Regions from separate parts of the Homo sapiens genome. Here region 2 is linked to region 1. A link means that fine-mapping ties the variant in region 1 to the expression of a gene that starts in the linked region. Tissue or cell type: whole blood. Region 1 holds a variant in brackets; the other region holds the start of a gene. All regions are shown on one strand. Distances are between the middles of the regions.

Region 1 (8,103 bases):
CCTTCACTGGTCTAATGGTACTTTCCTACTCTGTAGCCACAACCTGAACTCCTTCAACTATCTCCTCCCATTCCCTTACTCAGTACCTGATGGGAATAGGGGATGAGGGTTGGGGGAGAGGCAGGTGTAAGAATCAAGGCTGTATTAGTCAGCTATTTCCACAACAATGTGTCACAACAAATCATCCCAAAATTAGGCTGTATGAAACCATAAGCATGTCTCGTGCTGATAGGTCAGCAGCATGGATGCCAATCAGCTGATGTAGGCTGGGTCTGCTTCAAGCTGTGGGTCCATCTGTGCTTGGTTTCTGTCTGAGCCGGGCTCAAGTTTGCTCCATGTGTGTTCCTTCCACAATCCCAGCTGGAGGAGTAGCAGCTAGCAAGGGGACACTCTTCTGGTGGTGACAGCAGAAATGCAAAGGGGGAGGCCCAACTATGCAAGCAGCTTTCAAGCCTCTGTTTGCATCACATGTGCTAACATCTCATTGATCAAATCAAGTCAGAGAAGCAAGCCCTAACTCAAGAGCAGGGAAGCATGTTCCACCTCTAGTGGGAAGATCTGCAAAGTCTCATGGTGAAGGTCACAGATGCAAAAATAAGTGAAGATCCAGGGCCACTTCCAAGTGGTTCACTTGTGCCTTGTAACCCCTGAGCCCCCAAGGCCGGTTGTTTCCTGCTTGCCTTCAAATGGAGGGATTAATCTGATCAGGCCCAACTGCCCTGCTTGCTTTTTGTTGTTATTATTTCCCTATTTCCACGAAGCTGAAGGCCACCGTACCTGAAAGCCTCAATGCTCAATGCAGAAACTTAACTTTCATGGGAGGCTTTATAGAACTTACGTAGGTCACATGGTGATGGTCACTTCAGTTGTTTTTCAGGCACTTGGGCCAGCTCCTGTCCAGCTAAAACTGGTTTAGACAACTGACTCTTCAACTGGTCTGAGCAAGTGCCTGAGAGGTGGCCTTTTGATATAAGAGGGCCAAAAATCTCACCCTCAAATCATGCTAATGCCACAATTTTCTGTGGATATGTCCTGTGAAATGTCATGGCATGTACCTGGAGTCCCAGCTATAGAGCAGGCTAAGGTGGGATGGCTTGAGGCTGTAGTGAGCTATGATCATGCCACTGCATTTCAGCCTGCGTGACAGAGCAACACCTTGTCTCAAAAGAAAAAAAAGAGAAGGAAGAAGGGAAGGAGGGAGGGAGTGAAAGAAGGGAAAGAAAGAGAAATAGAGAAATGCCTTTGGTCTTTGATGTTGGTAACCTTCAGATGGGGTTTTTGTGTGGTCGTCCTTTTCGTTTATTTGATGCTATTGCTTTCTGTTTGTTAGTTTTCCTTCTAACAGTCAGGCCCCTCTTCTGCAGGTCTGCTAAGAGTTTGCTGGTGGTCCACTCCAGACACTGTTTTCCTGGGTATCACCAGCAGAGGCTGCAGAACAGCAAAGACTGCTGACTGCTCCTTCCTCTGGAAGCTTCGTCTCAGAGGGGCACACGCCAGATGCCAGCCAGCGCTCTCCTACATGAGGTGTCTGTTGATCCCTGCTGGGAGGTGTCTCCCCATCAGGAGGCACGGGGGTCAGGAACCCACTTGAGGAGGCAGTCTGTCCCTTAGCAGAGCTTGAGCACTGTGCTGGGAGATCCACTGCTCTCTTCAGAGCCGGCAGGCAGAAAAGTTTAAGTCTGATGAAGCTGTGCCCACAGCCACCCCTTTCCCCCAGGTGCTCTGTCCCAGGGATATGGGAGTTTTATCTACAAGGCCCTGAATGAGGCTACTGCCTTTCTTTCAGAGATACCCTGCCCAGAGAGGAGGAATCTAGAAAGGCAGTCTGGCTACGGAGGCTTTGTGGCGCTGTGGTGGGCTCCAACCAGTCCAAACTTCTGATAAATTATAAAAATATATGTAACGTTAAAAACAGCCATGCACTGGGAATGGAGGTGTAGTTCAGGGTAGAGCTTTCCACACTAGCAGCGGAGTTTTCTGGCCAAAACCTGGAGGAGCTGTGTGGTCCTCATGCTATGTTGTCTCCATGATGCTTCCCAGGACTACTCTCTGATCCATGTCAGGGCCTAGGAACTCCCCCAACTTCACCAAGTCTTTCATGAACTGGATTTAATGCAAAGATCCCAGACTGAGAGATATCTATATATGTCAGTACTGCATGTGTCTCAATTTGTGTCTCCAAACTGCTATTTTGTAGTGTAAACAAGAAGACATCAAACATGGAGACCTAAAGGCTGTTCCAGCAGTAAACGGAAACACTCCTCTCAGCTGCTCCTGTCACCACGGACTGAGGGAAAGCGGGGAGATTGTGCAGGCATGTGAGCAGGGGCCAGGGTTTGGCAACTGGGGATGGACTTTTCTGGGGTGAGTTTGTGGTAAAATCAGTTGCTGGTCTTACTCTCTAAAAGTAAGCAGGAACTTTCAATGTGCTGTAGGACTCCTGGGTGCGATTACCAACATGAAAAGTGGTTATTAGACACTTATGACAAGCAGGGCGTATAGCTCAGGGGTAGAGCATTTGACTGCAGATCAAGAGGTCCCCAGTTCAAATCTGGGTGCCCCCTACTGCACTTTTTCTATTCATACAAGCTGTTATATTCTTCACAGAAGCTGTTGGTCACATTCCAGTTTCTTTTCATCCATTCCACCTATGATTTTCCCTGGAACTGGAAGCTACAGCTCAGGCCTACCCAGCTGCAACCTGGCTGGATAACTTCTCCCAGCACCAGTTCCACGGGTATCCCTCATATTCTTGGTATTCTTGGTATCTAGCTCCCTGCTCCCCCTATAGATGTAATTTCTCAAGCTGTGATGCAGTATGCTTCTGGGTTTTTCCAGGGCAGACCAGAGAGTAGTACTGCAGCAGGCTCCCCAGAAACAGATGGGGAATGGTACCCCAAGTTATCACTCTCCTGGCTCCTTCCCACAGCAGCAGTTTGGTGCACTGGAGTGGTGGCCAGACCTGGGGAGACACATCACAGCACACAGCATTCCCATGGAGGGCAGATGTTTCCCCTGGAGAATTGCTCCCACGCAGGGCTCACTCACACCCTTGCTTCAACCTTATAGGCCAAAAGCCTGGCTCAGCTACTCTAACAAGGGAGACAGAGGCTCTGCAGTGCTGCCCCTACGACCAAACTCCTGTAGCTCTGCGGCTGCACGTGAATTACAGCCCACTCTGTGACTGTGGCCCAAGGCTTGGAGGTGGGGGATTAGACTCAAGAGTCTGTTCGTATGAGATGATTGGGAATTCCAACTTTGTTCTGTGGGCCACAGGGAGTCCTGTGTGCTGCAATGAAGAACCAGTGAGGTCCTTTGTCTAAGGAGGTCATTTAGGAGACATTACAGATACTGGTTTGGAGTTTGCCAAAAGACAAGAACAGGAACTGGTGTTATTTTTTTAATGCTTACTATGCCCTACTATGTGCTAATATCATGCTAGGCAGTTTATCATCAGTTATCATATTTGTCCACTCTGTCTTCACTGCAGGAAAAAGGGAGCCGGGCTGGGAGCTTGGGTTAGTCTGTGGACTGTTTTGGACACCAGTGGCCAGCTCTTGGGTTAACCCCAAAAAACAATGGGAAATGGCTCTGAGTTCTGCAGACAGCCTCCATCCTTTTCTCCTGCTCATGGCTCCACCCAGAGACAGACCTGGTGAACTGCAGAGCTGAGGGAAGGTGTCTAGCTGTGAATCAGGTCTGGCAGCTTCCAGAAAGTCAGTCCTGGAGGGAAGCCATCATTTAATTTTACAAAGCTGAGTGTTCCCATACTGATAAAAGGTACTAACTAGGTAACCTCAGTGTGCCATGGGGGTAAAGCTCTGGGCTAGAGCTTTTGACTGTAGAGCAAGAGGTCCCTCGCTCAGATCCAGGTTCTCCATTCTTTATGTTCAATGTTGGTAGATAACTTTATCCACATACAACTTAGACTGGCATAGGCCACACAGAGGGTAGGGTCACCTTCTCAGTCTCATTCTCCACGTTGCCCCCAAACAACAGCTCCTCCACTATCCCTCCACGCTTCTCCTCTCTCAAAACCATCTCCTTCCACCACTCTCTCCTCTCACCATTCATGTCTTCTCTGACATATGGGACTCCACAAACAGTGGACACTTTTAGAACCAGGCTAACAATCTTATTTTCCTCACCGCCCTCTCCTTCTGTCCTCAGGAATGTCAAACACCATGGCAATGTGCGTCCAATGCTAAGGCCTCCAGAGATTTCCATCCTGCTGCCTCTACGAATGTTCACAAACTCCACTCACTGAGGCTCTCAAGGGGTGTGGTGAGGCAGAGTCAGCGTTTTCCACTAGTGTCTTTTACCCTGCTTCTTGAGGCAGGAGAATCGCTTGAACCCAGGAGGCAGAGGTTGCAGTAAGCCGAGATCTTGCCATTGCACTCCAGCCAGGGCAACAAGAGCAAAACTCCGTCCCCCAAGCAAAAAAAAAAAAAAAAAAAAAAAAACCAACCAAACAAAAAAAAACACAAAACTTTCCCTTACCACAACTTCCTCAAACATAGTTTACTCTGACACCTGTATAACCACTGCCAATGCTCGTTCCCTAATTAAGTTACATTACTTTTCAGAGAGATTCTGCCTGTTATTTAGATTGACACCACCTTTTATTGGCTTCTTTGCTTTCTCTGTCTGACTTCCCACTCCCTACTGGTGTTTCCTGAACTTATCTTCCAAATAAACTACCTGCTCTTACATTTTAGTTTCAGAGTCTCTTTCTAAAGAAATCTAAACTAAGACAACAGATTAAAGGAGAAAAATCA[C/T]GTCATTCAAATAGATGAAGAAAAACATCCAATCAAATCCAACACACCTTCGTGATTCAAAAAAAATTCTTGGAAGCGAGGATAAATATTCTACCTTCTTAATATGTCACTAGCTGTCTACCTGAAATATAAAAAGAAATATTATTTAACGGTGGGGTCGTGAAAGCTTTAAATTGAAAAATGAAAGAAAGACAAATATGCTCTTAAAGGGAAATGGAAACTGAATTGAGGAGCAAAAGACTCTAAAAAAATCACCAAATATATTTTTTAAATGAATCAACTAAGACATTCCAGAAATGAAAAAAAGTATCAACATCTTCCTTTTTATTTACTTTTAACTGAAATATAACTAACAATAAGGTATAGAAATCTTTAACGTACAGCTCAATTAATTTGTACACATACACACAAATGTACCCACCTCCTAAATCAAGATATAGAAGACTGAAAGGAATGCTGCTATGAACAAGAATCTTGCATGTACACAGACACACTCTACTCTCCGTATCTAGGAATACAATTGTTGAGGAAGTGGGTGTTTCTATTTTTGGCTTTAGCCAGTAAGGTCGGACGGTTTTCTAAAGTGGTTCCAGCAAATCACACTACCACTAGCAGGGGATGAGAGTTACTATGGCTCCACGTACCATCACTGAGTAACATCAGTCTCTTTCATTTTAACCAACCTAGCAACAATTCTAGCAATAGTTCACTGCGGTTTAACTTGCACCTTTCTTTTCTTTTCGTTTTGAGATGGAGTTTCGCTCTCGTTGCCCAGGCTGGAGTACAGTGGCACGATCTTGGCTCGCCACAACCTCCGCTTCCCGGGTTCAAGCAATGCTCCTACCTCAGCTTCCTGAGTGGCTGGGATTACAGGCATGCGCCACCAAGCCTGGCTAATTTTGTATTTTTAGTAGAGATGGGGTTTCTCCATGTTGGTCAGGCTGGTCTTGAACTCCCGACCTCAGGTGATCCGGCCGCCTCGGCCTCCCCAAGTGCTGGGATTACAGGTGTGAGCCACCGCGCCCGGCCTAATTTGCACCTTTCTAGACTCATGAGGTTTGAGCATCTTTTCATAGGCTTATTGGTCGCTTGGATGTCCTCTTCTGTGAAGTGACTGCTCAAGTCTCTTCTTCATTTTTCTACTAAGTTGTCCATTTTTTAATTGTCTTGTGCAATACTTTATATATTTTGGGAATAAACCCTTCATCACTTATGTGCAACAGATACCTTCTCCTGCCATGTGGGTTCTTATTCTCTTACTTGTGTTTATTGGCTCTCATGAATGTTAGCTGATTTCTCTGTGAGCTTTTTATCTGTTCAGCAAACGGTATATAGAATTTACTACCTGCCAGTCCTGTTTTATGTGCTTTACGCAGATTAACTCATTCAATCTACACAACAATCCATGAAACATACGCTCTTTTTTTTTTTTTTTTGAGATGGAATCTCGATTTGTTGCCCAGGCTGGAGAGCAGCTGCGCGATCTGGACTCACTGCAACCTCCACGTTCCTATTTTAAGCGATTCTCCTGCCTCAGCCTCCCGAGTAGCTGAGATTATAGGTGCCCGCCACCACACCCGGCTAATTTTTGTATTTTTAGTAGAGACGGGGTTTCACCACATTGGCCAGGCTGGTCTCCAACTCCTGACCTGGTGATCTGCCCACCTCAGCCACCCAAAGTGCTGGGATTACAGGAATGAGCCACTGCGCCCGGCCACTGCTTAGCCCTTCTCGTATCCTGCCTTAGTGCAAGACTGTCTCCTTCCTGATTCCTCACCATGGGTGGGGCCTAAGACTTCTTCTTGGAAATGCCCATTCATCATTGTACTACTGACATCCGGGCCTCCAGAATCCAGCGATGTCCAGGGTCTTCTGCGACTTCCTGGACTTCGCTCTTGTTGCCCAGGCTGGAGTGTGATGGCGCGATCTTGGCTCACCGCAACCTCCGCCTCACGGGTTTAAGCAATTCTCCTGCCTCAGCCTCCCGAGTAGCTGGGATTACAGGCAAGAGTCACCAGGCCCGGCTAATTTTGTATTTTCAGTAGAGATGGGGTTTCTCCATGTTGCTCGGGCCGGTCTCAAACTCCCGACCTCAGGTGATCTGCCTGCCAGGCTGCTGCCCAGGCCCTGCCAGTGGGGAGTTCTGTGCTCTTGCAGGCTCATCAATCCTCCGCATCTTCCTTGGCAGTCCACCCTACTGCCGAAAAGGGAAACCCAGAGGATTTTAACGTTATCATATAAATCACTGCGGAAGTCAGTGTTTCCCGAGGCTGTCAGGCCAGGAGCGGAGAGGAGTGGCTGGCTGCTGGCTGCCTTCTGAGAAGGTGCCCAGGGCTACAAGGCAAAGGCCTGTGGGTAAAGGAGAAAATTCCAGCAGGAAAGAAAGGCAGTTTGAAGAAGAGACAGTTTACCAGCTCCTATGACAAGAGCAGAGGCGGGGCCTTGGCACAGCTGAGGAGGTGAAAAGGAGTTAACCCAAGTGTTCCTCCAAGTCTTCCTTCTAGAAAGGACAGGGTTCTGCCTGCCATCAGGAAGGTCACGTGGGAGGCTGGACACAGTGGCTCATGTCTCTCATCCCAGCACTTTGGGAGGTCAAGGCAGGAGGATCGCTTGAGACCAGGAGTTTAAGACCAGCCTGGGCAACATAGTGAGACTTCACCTCTACAAAAAATAAAATACATTAGCTGGGTATGATGGTACACACCTGTGGTCCCACCTACTTGGGAAGCTGAAGTGAGCTATAATTGTTTCACTGCACTCCACTCTGGATGACAGGAAAACACCCTGTTACTTAAAGACAAAAATGAATCAAGTGGGGTTGTTGTCTAGCAACATATTCTGGTCCTTGAAACTATGTTAACGCTGGCCCTCTTAAGGCTTTCGGGGATTCCAAAATCTACTCAGCTACCGCCTTCTCACTATTTCTTGGAGTCGCTCCTTCTCTATCATTCTCCATTAATATTAATTGAAGAAGTGAAAGCTGGAAGAATCACCTTCTGTCCTAGATTGTAGTTGTGTTGGAACACTGGACCAGGAGAGCCAGGCCCAACTCTGTCATTAAGTGTTTTAGAACAGACACCTCAGTCACACAAAGTTTCTCTTGTATGTGCCCACCATAAACAGTTACTGGAGGATGACTCTCAAGGCCATTCTAGTGGCTGCTGGCAGTGCTTTTCCAGCCTGCTGCCCATAACTAAGGACTCAAGGCAGGGAAGACACAGGCACGGGGGTTATCTGAGGAGCGGGGACTGCCTCTTGCTATGCACAAGGTCAATGAGTTTTCACTGAGGTAGACCTGGCAGCTCCTAGGAGCTTCCATTGTGAA
Region 2 (8,103 bases), 400 kb before region 1:
TTTAGGGACGTTAACCATGCTTGCGTGAGCGCTATCGGCACGGAAAGAAAGAAGCCGCGCCGCAAACGGAAGTATACCTTTTTTTTTTTTTTTTTTTTTTTTTTTTTTGAGATGGAGTCTCACTCTGTCGCCAGGCTGGAGTGCAGTGGTGCGATCTCGGCTCACTGCAAGCTCCGCCTCCCGGGTTCACGCCATTCTCCTGCCTCAGCCTCCCGAGTAGCTGAGACTACAGGCGCCCGCCACCACGCCCGGCTAATTTTTTTGCATTTTTAGTAGAGATGGGGTTTCACCGTGTTAGCCAGGATGGTCTCGATCTCCTGACCTCGTGATCTGCGCACCTCGGCCTCCCAAAGTGCTGGGATTACAGGCGTGAGCCACCGCGCCCGGCCTCTCCTGTATTCTTTAGTTCAGCATCTATCACTTCAAATATCCTGTCCAGAGCAGTAACAATAAAATTCCTAGGGGAGGGGATGAAAAGCAGTCAGTTCCCACCTGAGAGACTGAGGGGCCAGGCCTGGGTCCTTCCCTAACAAGAAACGTGTGTTAACCGTGATACATGGCATTTATAATCCACTTTATCCAGTTGCTCATTCTGCTCCTCGGTACGTTAGATAACTGTCTCCTAGTCACCCAGTGATTTCCGGAAACCAGTCTTATGACTGAACACTTCTCCCAGTGCAGGGTCTCTCCCACTCTTGGGGATCTCTCTGTCTCATCAGTCCGTTGATCATGGGAGGACCTATAACGGGGCCCACAGCCTGTGCAGCTACAGCAGCTTCCTCCTCATTCCCTGCTTGTTTTCCTTCTGGGAAGTTCTCCTTAATCACTCCCTTCACTACCTTCCTGCTGGTATCCACTACGGCCTTTTATGGCCTGTGGTTGCTAGGCTTGGTGGTTATAAAATAATGTTAGTGGCCAGGTGCGGTGGCTCATGCTTGTAATCCCAGCACTTGGGGAGGCCAAGGCGGGTGGATCATGTGAGGTCAAGAGTTTGAGACCAGCCTGGCCAACATGGTGAAACCCCACCTCTACTAAAAATACAAAAATTAGCTGGGCATGGTGGCAAGCGCCTGTAATCCCAGCTACTCGGGAGGCTGAGGCAGGAGAATTGTTTGAACTTGGGAGACGGAGGTTGCAGTGAGCCGAGATTGAGCCACTGCATTCCATCCTGGGTGACAGAGTGAGACTCTGTCTCAAAAATAAATAAAATAAAATATTGCAAGTACAATGAAGCCTGTGCATTTAAATTGTTTGAGTTGAGTAGCTTTGCTCATATATCTCTTTTTTTTTTTTTTTGAGACCGAGTCTTGCTCTGTCGCCAGGCTGGAGTACAGTGGAAGGATCTCGGTTCACTGCAACTTCCACCTCCTGGGCTCAAGCGACTCTTCTGCCTCAGCCTCCAGAGTAGCTGGGACTACAGGCGCACACCACCATGCCTGGCTAAGTTTTGTATTTTTAGTAGAGATGGGGTTTCACCATATTGGCCAGGCTGGTCTCAAACTCTTGACCTCATGATTTGCCCGCCTCGGCTTCCCAAAGTACTGGGATCATCTTAACAATGAATGGGACCTCTAGCTCTGAGCAACTACTCTGGTCACAAAGGGTGATAGTGTTGATGGCTGCATGAAAATCCACCCGCTGTGAAGGAGAAATGTGAAGTAGACACACTACAGCGATGTCTTACTATGTAACAAAGGACATCGTTATAACTAGTTAAGTGCTTAGGAAGGGAAGTCATTTTAAAGGCTTTATACAGAAAAGATAGCATAAATGTTTGGGACTAACCTAGTCCTTCCTTTATCACCTCTAGGAAAGAGAAAAGATAGTTGATAATCTACAGTGCAGAAGACGTGTTCTGAAATGTGGCTCGCTGGTGGAAATGAATTTGCCTAGAGCTTTTCAGACTTAACTTGCCTGGTTCCTCTAATAAAAGTGGACGTGATGTTTACAATCAGGGCCAGGAAGCAGGGAAGGAAATCACTGACTTCTGGGAGCATGGACTTTACTGGCCTATAAGCTCCTTGAGGATAATCTTAAGTCTGTGAATACTCATTTCTGTATCCTAGAAGTGTGCCTAGCAGAGAAAGTACTTGGTAACTGTTCTTCTGAATATGGCCTTCTAAGCACATGTCTCACGTAGGCCAATAATGTCCTTTATTTTATGAAGTGCAGTGGAACTTAAAGGTACTAGCAGGTCTGCTTCCACACAAGGTGATGAGCCTCAGAGATCTCTTCCTTAACAAGACAGGGACTGGTCCTTTAGGAAAACAAAGTAAATACTATTTTGAGAATAATTACAAAAACACCTTTTGGGGGTAACTATCTTTGCAGAATGCTCGCTATGTGCCAGGCACAATTCTCATTTAATTTTACAACATTAAAATAGAGTTGCCATTATTTTCTTCATTTATATATGAAGAGAATGAGGCTCAGAGAAGTTAAATAAGTTGCTCAAAGTCATAGCTAGTGAGTGGTGATTTTGGGATTTAAACTCAGGTGTATGCAACTGCAAAGCTCACCCTCTTCCTAAACAGTACCTGGCACACAGTAGGTGTTCAATAAATACATTTGGAATGACTGAATTTTCCCCTCCTCCATCTTCATCAGCTTATACTGGCCTCTCCCTGGCTCCTCCTCTGACCTGGCCTGATGTTTCAAAGTGACACTGACCTGCCTTTAAAGGGTTTTATTTGTAGAGAAGGGATCTCGCTGTGTCACCCAGGCTGGTCTTGAACTCCTGGCCTCAGCCTTGGCCTCCAAAGTGTTGGGATTACAGGTGTGAGCCACCATGACTGCCCGATTTAAAGGTTTATTTATTTATTTATTTGACACAGGATCTTTGCTATGCCGCCCAAGCTGGAGCACAACGGCACAATCACAGCTCACTGCAACCTCCAACTCCTGAGTTCAAGCAATCCTACAGCCTTAGCCTCCTGAGTAACTAGGAGTACAGGCATTAGCCATCATGCCCGGGTAATTTTTATTTTTTATTTTATTATTATTATTATTATTTTTTTTTGAGACGGAGTCTTGCTCTGTTGCCCAGGCTAGAGTGCAGTGGCGCGATCTCGGCTCACTGCAAGCTCCGCCTCCCGGGTTCACGCCATTCTCCTGCCTCAGCCTCCCGAGTAGCTGGGACTACAGGCGCCGCCACCACACCCGGCTAATTTTTTTGTATTTTTAGTAGAGACGGGGTTTCACCGTGTTAGCCAGGATGGTCTCGATCTCCTGACCTCGTGATCCGCCCGTCTTGGCCTCCCAAAGTGCTGGGATTACAGGCGTGAGCCACGGCGCCCGGCCTTATTATTATTTTTTGAGATGGAGTCTCGCTCTGTTGCCCAGGCTGGAGCGCACTGGCGCGATCTTGGCTCACTGCAACCTCCGCTTCGGAGGTTGAAGCGATTCTCCTGCCTCAGCCTCCCGAGTAGCTAGGATTATAGGCCCACGCCACCACGCCCGGCTAATCTTTTTGTATTTTTAGTAGAGACGGGGTTTCACCATGTTGGCCAGGCTGGTCTCGAACTCCTGACCTCAGGTGATCCGCCTGCCTCAGCCTCCCAATGTGCTGGGATTACAGATGTGAGCCACCGCGCTCGGCTAATTTTTATTTTTTATAGGGATGGGGTGTCAATATGTTGCTCAGTCTGGTCTCGAACTCCTGGGCTCAAGTCGTTCTCCTGCTTCAGCCTCTCAGAGTGCTGAGATTACAGGTGTGAGGCACCACGCCCAACCCAATTTCAAGGTGTTTGAAGAGGCCACTGTTAAAATGCACTGCACCTTACCTGGGAGAAAGAGCTCAGCCCTCTTTTGACACCTTAACATGAATCACTTCTCTATCATCCATAACAGTGCAAAAGCTCTGGGATGGGTCCAGGTAAATCTGGATTGGGAAGAAGGGGAGTGGGAGGTAAAGTCTGCAAAGGAGTGAGGGAAGGCAGAAGGCCAGAAGAAAGTGTCTGAAGACAGAATTACTCCTGCAAAATTTTCACAAGGGTCAGGCACTATTTTCTCCCGGGATGCCCAATACATTTGCAGAATTAACAGTAATCAAGCCCACAGTCCAGGTCCTCGCATAGTTTGGGCCTTTAAAGTCGGCCATCCCAGATTGAGGGGGCCTGACCCCTGGGCGAGGCCGCCGCCTCTCAGTTTTGGGGCGGTGGCGACCCCAGTCCGGGAGTGGCCCCGGTAGGTCCCCGCAGGCGGGCAGGAGCTCCGAGGCCATTGGCTGGCGCGCGGGCTGCCAAGGGGCGGGGAGCGCCGCCGAAGGGGACTGTTTGCTCCTACGGGCTGTAGATGGAGCTGTCCGGCCCCGGAGAGGGGGAAGGCGCCTGGAAAACGTTCTTCTTCTCCCTGGCCGACCCGAGCGGGGAACAGCACTCCCAGGATGCAGTTTGTGTCAACACGGCCGCAGCCTCAGCAGCTGGGCATCCAGGGCCTGGGGCTGGACAGCGGGAGCTGGAGCTGGGCCCAGGCTCTGCCCCCGGAGGAGGTCTGCCACCAGGAGCCGGCGCTGCGCGGGGAAATGGCCGAGGGAATGCCGCCCATGCAGGTGGGAGAACCCCGCCGGCGCCATGGCCGCGCTGCCGTGGGGGCGGGGCGCGGGCTGGGCCGCGGGACCGGGCCGCGCCGTCCTCCGGTAGCCTTGCGGCGCCCTCCCAGCTTCCGCGCCCAGGCGAGGCCCGAGGCGGGCGGGGCACGGCCGGGCTGCGCGGCGGGCAGGACGGAGCGGGCCCGACGCAGGCCCGGAAGGGCAGGCCTGGCCCGCGCGGCGCGGAGCAGCGGTCGCCGGGCCCAAGTGCGGAGGCCCCGCGGGGCGGGGGCCGGGACCGTCCTTTCCGGGACCTGGCAGAGCTCTGACCCTGTGGCTGAGCCCCGGCTTGGGGCTCCCTTTGCGCCCGGCCGGCGGAGAGCTTCGCGGGCAGTGCTTCCGCCCGGCCGCAGAAGTGAATGCCTCGTTCGTGTTTACACGGTGGCCAATTTGACGGGGATATTTTTTAAATGTTTGATTACCACCTTTCACCAAGTGTAATGAGTAATTCACTCTCCCCCTGCACCGGGTGTGATCCAGGGAGGGGGCCATGGAGAGATGACTTCGGGGTCTTTCCTGCGGTTGACAAACTTGGCCGCATGTTGGAATGGCCTGGGCAGCTTTTAAGACTCCTGAGCCCTTGCCTGGTCCCAGAGCTCAGGGTCTCTGACGGGTGAGAGTAGCACCAGGCATTTCTTCAGGCTCCATCGATGATCTCCGTGGGCAGAACCGGTGCTCCAGAATTGGGTATAAAACCAGGGGAGGTGGATCCTCAGAGAGGCCTGAAAGCTTGCCCAGGGAAGACTCTCTGGGCCCACCCTGGGGCTGGGCTGCTCAGGGGCCCCTCTGCTCACCACGCGGCTCTCAGCCAGGTGCTAACGAGGGAGCCAGGGGCTGCTGTGTTGTGTTTGATCATTTTCAGGGTTAGGGCTTCAAACCCGAGAAAACTAAACTGGGCCCCGGGACTTTCTTAACTTCTACTGTGGACTCTGTCCCCTTCTGTGGGCTAGGGCGGAGTGGAGCCTCTGTGATGGAGGAATGGGTGCTTTTGATGGAAACACCAGCACCTCTTACTGGTATTACAGGGCCTGGCGATCCTAGGGCCCTGCTCTCCACTCTGCTGTGTCCCGGAGCAGGTCTGCCCCGGAGCAGGGCTGCTCTTGAGTCAGAGAGTGGGGCTGGTCTGCCCAGATCGCCCCAAGCAGCAGGCCTCCCCTTTTCCTAGCCTGAGGGCCTTTTCTGCAGCCATCGGGAGGACAGAAAATGACACCTCTTCCTGTCCCAGGTGTGAAGGAGAGTCGGCTGCCAGCCCATGTGGTCCAGTGAGCCCTGAGTCTGACACCAGGTCCCAGATGACCAGTGAACTGTCACCAGCCTCAACCAGCCCCCCTTAGCCATAGGTCTCAGCTCTCAATTGCACCAATTAGTTTACCCTTCTGGGGTGAGGGCTCTGTGCTGGAAGATAAAAGGGGGAGTCCCCAGGCCATGGGGCACCCCTTCCCCAGGAAGCAAGGAGGGGTCCCAGAGGAGTTTTTCTTTCTCTTGGTCCTCTTGGGTGTGAGGGACATCCCCTCTTCACCTCTAATGAGTGACCTTTTTTAGTGAACCTATTTTCAATTTGGAAAATGTTTATGAAACAGTAGTTGTATATGGGGGGAAGCTGCTTTTCTGCCCTAGCTTGGGCTCTCCGGTCTTTTCCTTGACTGCAGCCCTGGTAGGAATGTGGTGGGTTTTTTTGTTGTTTATTTGTTTGTTCCGAGACGGAGTCTTGCTCTGTTGCCCAGGCTGGAGTGCAGTGGCACCATCTCGGCTCACTGCAACCTCCGCTTCCCAGGTTCAAGCGATTCTCCTGCCTCAGCCTCCCAAGTAGCTGGGATTACAGGAGCCCACCACCACACCCGGCTAATTTTTGTGTTTTTAGTAGAGACAGGGTTTCGCCATGTTGGCCAGGCTGGTCTTGAACTCCTGACCTCAAGTGAGCTGCCTGCCTTGGCCTCCCAAAGTGCTGGGAAGGTGTGAGCCACTGCACCTGGCCAGGAATGTGTTTTTTGTTACCTGCAGCATCTAGAGCTGCCCCAGCTGGCAGTGCAGGGAGGCGCTGCGGAGTGACCAGCTGCCTCCCTGTGCTTCAGTTTCATCATCTTTAAGGCAGAGATCATCATTCTTGCCCTAACCTGCTGAGAGATTGCTGGGAAGATTAGCGTCAGCTAACTTACATCAAAGTTCTTGGAAACATAAAACACTAGGCAAATACAAAGTTCGTCATTAAGGCTAGCCCTTGAAGAAATCAGTTGGTCTATTCAAAGAAAGTGGCCTGTGACATTTTAGGCAGGGGTTGCAGCCTTAACTTGCTAAGGGTCAATGTGGGTGAACCAGTGACCAGCCTGACTCACCTAGGCAGGAGATGGGAGAGTGTTGAGTTGGGTGGGTGGGTGAGTGGGTAGCTGTTGCTGGGGGTGTTAGTGTATCCTGAGTTACGGGGGCCTGGCAGAAGAAAGACGACATGTAGCATCTGATTAGTTGACCCCTGTTCCCAGCTGACTTCCCCGGCTCACACAAGGTCTCATCCTGGGTTGTCGCTTTCTCCCTCTGCATACAGGCTCAAGAATGGGACATGGACGCCCGGCGGCCAATGCCTTTTCAGTTCCCACCCTTTCCAGATAGGGCACCTGTCTTCCCCGACCGCATGATGCGAGAGCCCCAGTTGCCCACAGCAGAGATCTCACTCTGGACTGTGGTGGCTGCCATTCAGGCTGTGGAGAGGAAGGTGGATGCCCAGGCCAGCCAGCTGCTGAACCTGGAGGGGCGCACGGGGACAGCCGAGAAGAAGCTGGCCGACTGTGAAAAGACGGCCGTGGAATTTGGGAACCACATGGAGAGCAAGTGGGCCGTGCTGGGGACCCTGCTGCAGGAGTACGGGCTGCTGCAGAGGCGGCTGGAGAACTTGGAGAACTTGCTGCGCAACAGGAACTTCTGGGTCCTGCGGCTGCCCCCGGGCAGCAAGGGGGAGGCCCCCAAGGTATGTGGTGGTCCCTGGGGCAGGGATAGAGGTGAGGAACAGCACAGGTGCATAAAATTCTTGATTTCATTTTGTCAGCCCTTCTCATAAACTTCTCTGGCTCCCCGTTATCCAATTTCAGTGTCTTCTTAAAGCCTGTCTCCACTGAAACAACCTGGTCTTGGACGTTCTACCCCAGCAAGGCTCACTCCATTCATTCCCCACAGTCTGCATTTCTGTCTGGGAGCCTTTGCTCTCGCTGTTCCTAGACCCCTCTGAGTTGTCTGGTTGTCTGCAAGTTCTTGCAGCTCTTCACTCCTTGGTTTTCCCACTTGACACCTACCAGCGATCATGTGTCATTGGCTGTCTTGGTATATGCTCACCGGAATGTGGCTGGAGTCGCACCTCAAACCAGGCTGCCTGGAGTTGCTTTCAAGTCGTAGTCACTTATCTCAGGGGGGCCCTTCTTAAAGTTCAGAATGCACACTCCGTATCTTACTCCGTTCCCTCTCCTGCTTTCCTCCCGGATCCTCAATGCTGCTTTTCAGTTCACTGAGAGAACGGAGTCACCCAGAAG

What was found. PIP is the estimated chance that this variant, and not a neighbour inherited with it, causes the effect.
Region 2: ZNF282 starts here. The variant in region 1 is fine-mapped to the expression of ZNF282 in whole blood (TOPMed, PIP 0.98).

What each region holds. Positions count from the first base shown.
Region 1 is chr7:149,595,463-149,603,565 of GRCh38, forward strand. TRC-GCA20-1 (tRNA-Cys (anticodon GCA) 20-1) reads left to right here and starts at 2,493; the gene lies at 2,493-2,564. It also overlaps the pseudogene ZNF767P. RefSeq lists silencers at 4,503-4,703, 5,143-5,343 and an enhancer at 5,452-5,611. The variant C/T (reference allele first, on the strand shown) is at 4,779.
Region 2 is chr7:149,191,206-149,199,308 of GRCh38, forward strand. It overlaps ZNF282 (zinc finger protein 282), which reads left to right and starts at 4,341. Exons shown (of 8, transcript NM_003575.4): 1 at 4,341-4,549; 2 at 7,128-7,547. The coding sequence starts at 4,385. RefSeq lists silencers at 4,009-4,298, 4,117-4,438, 4,559-4,918 and an enhancer at 5,359-5,408.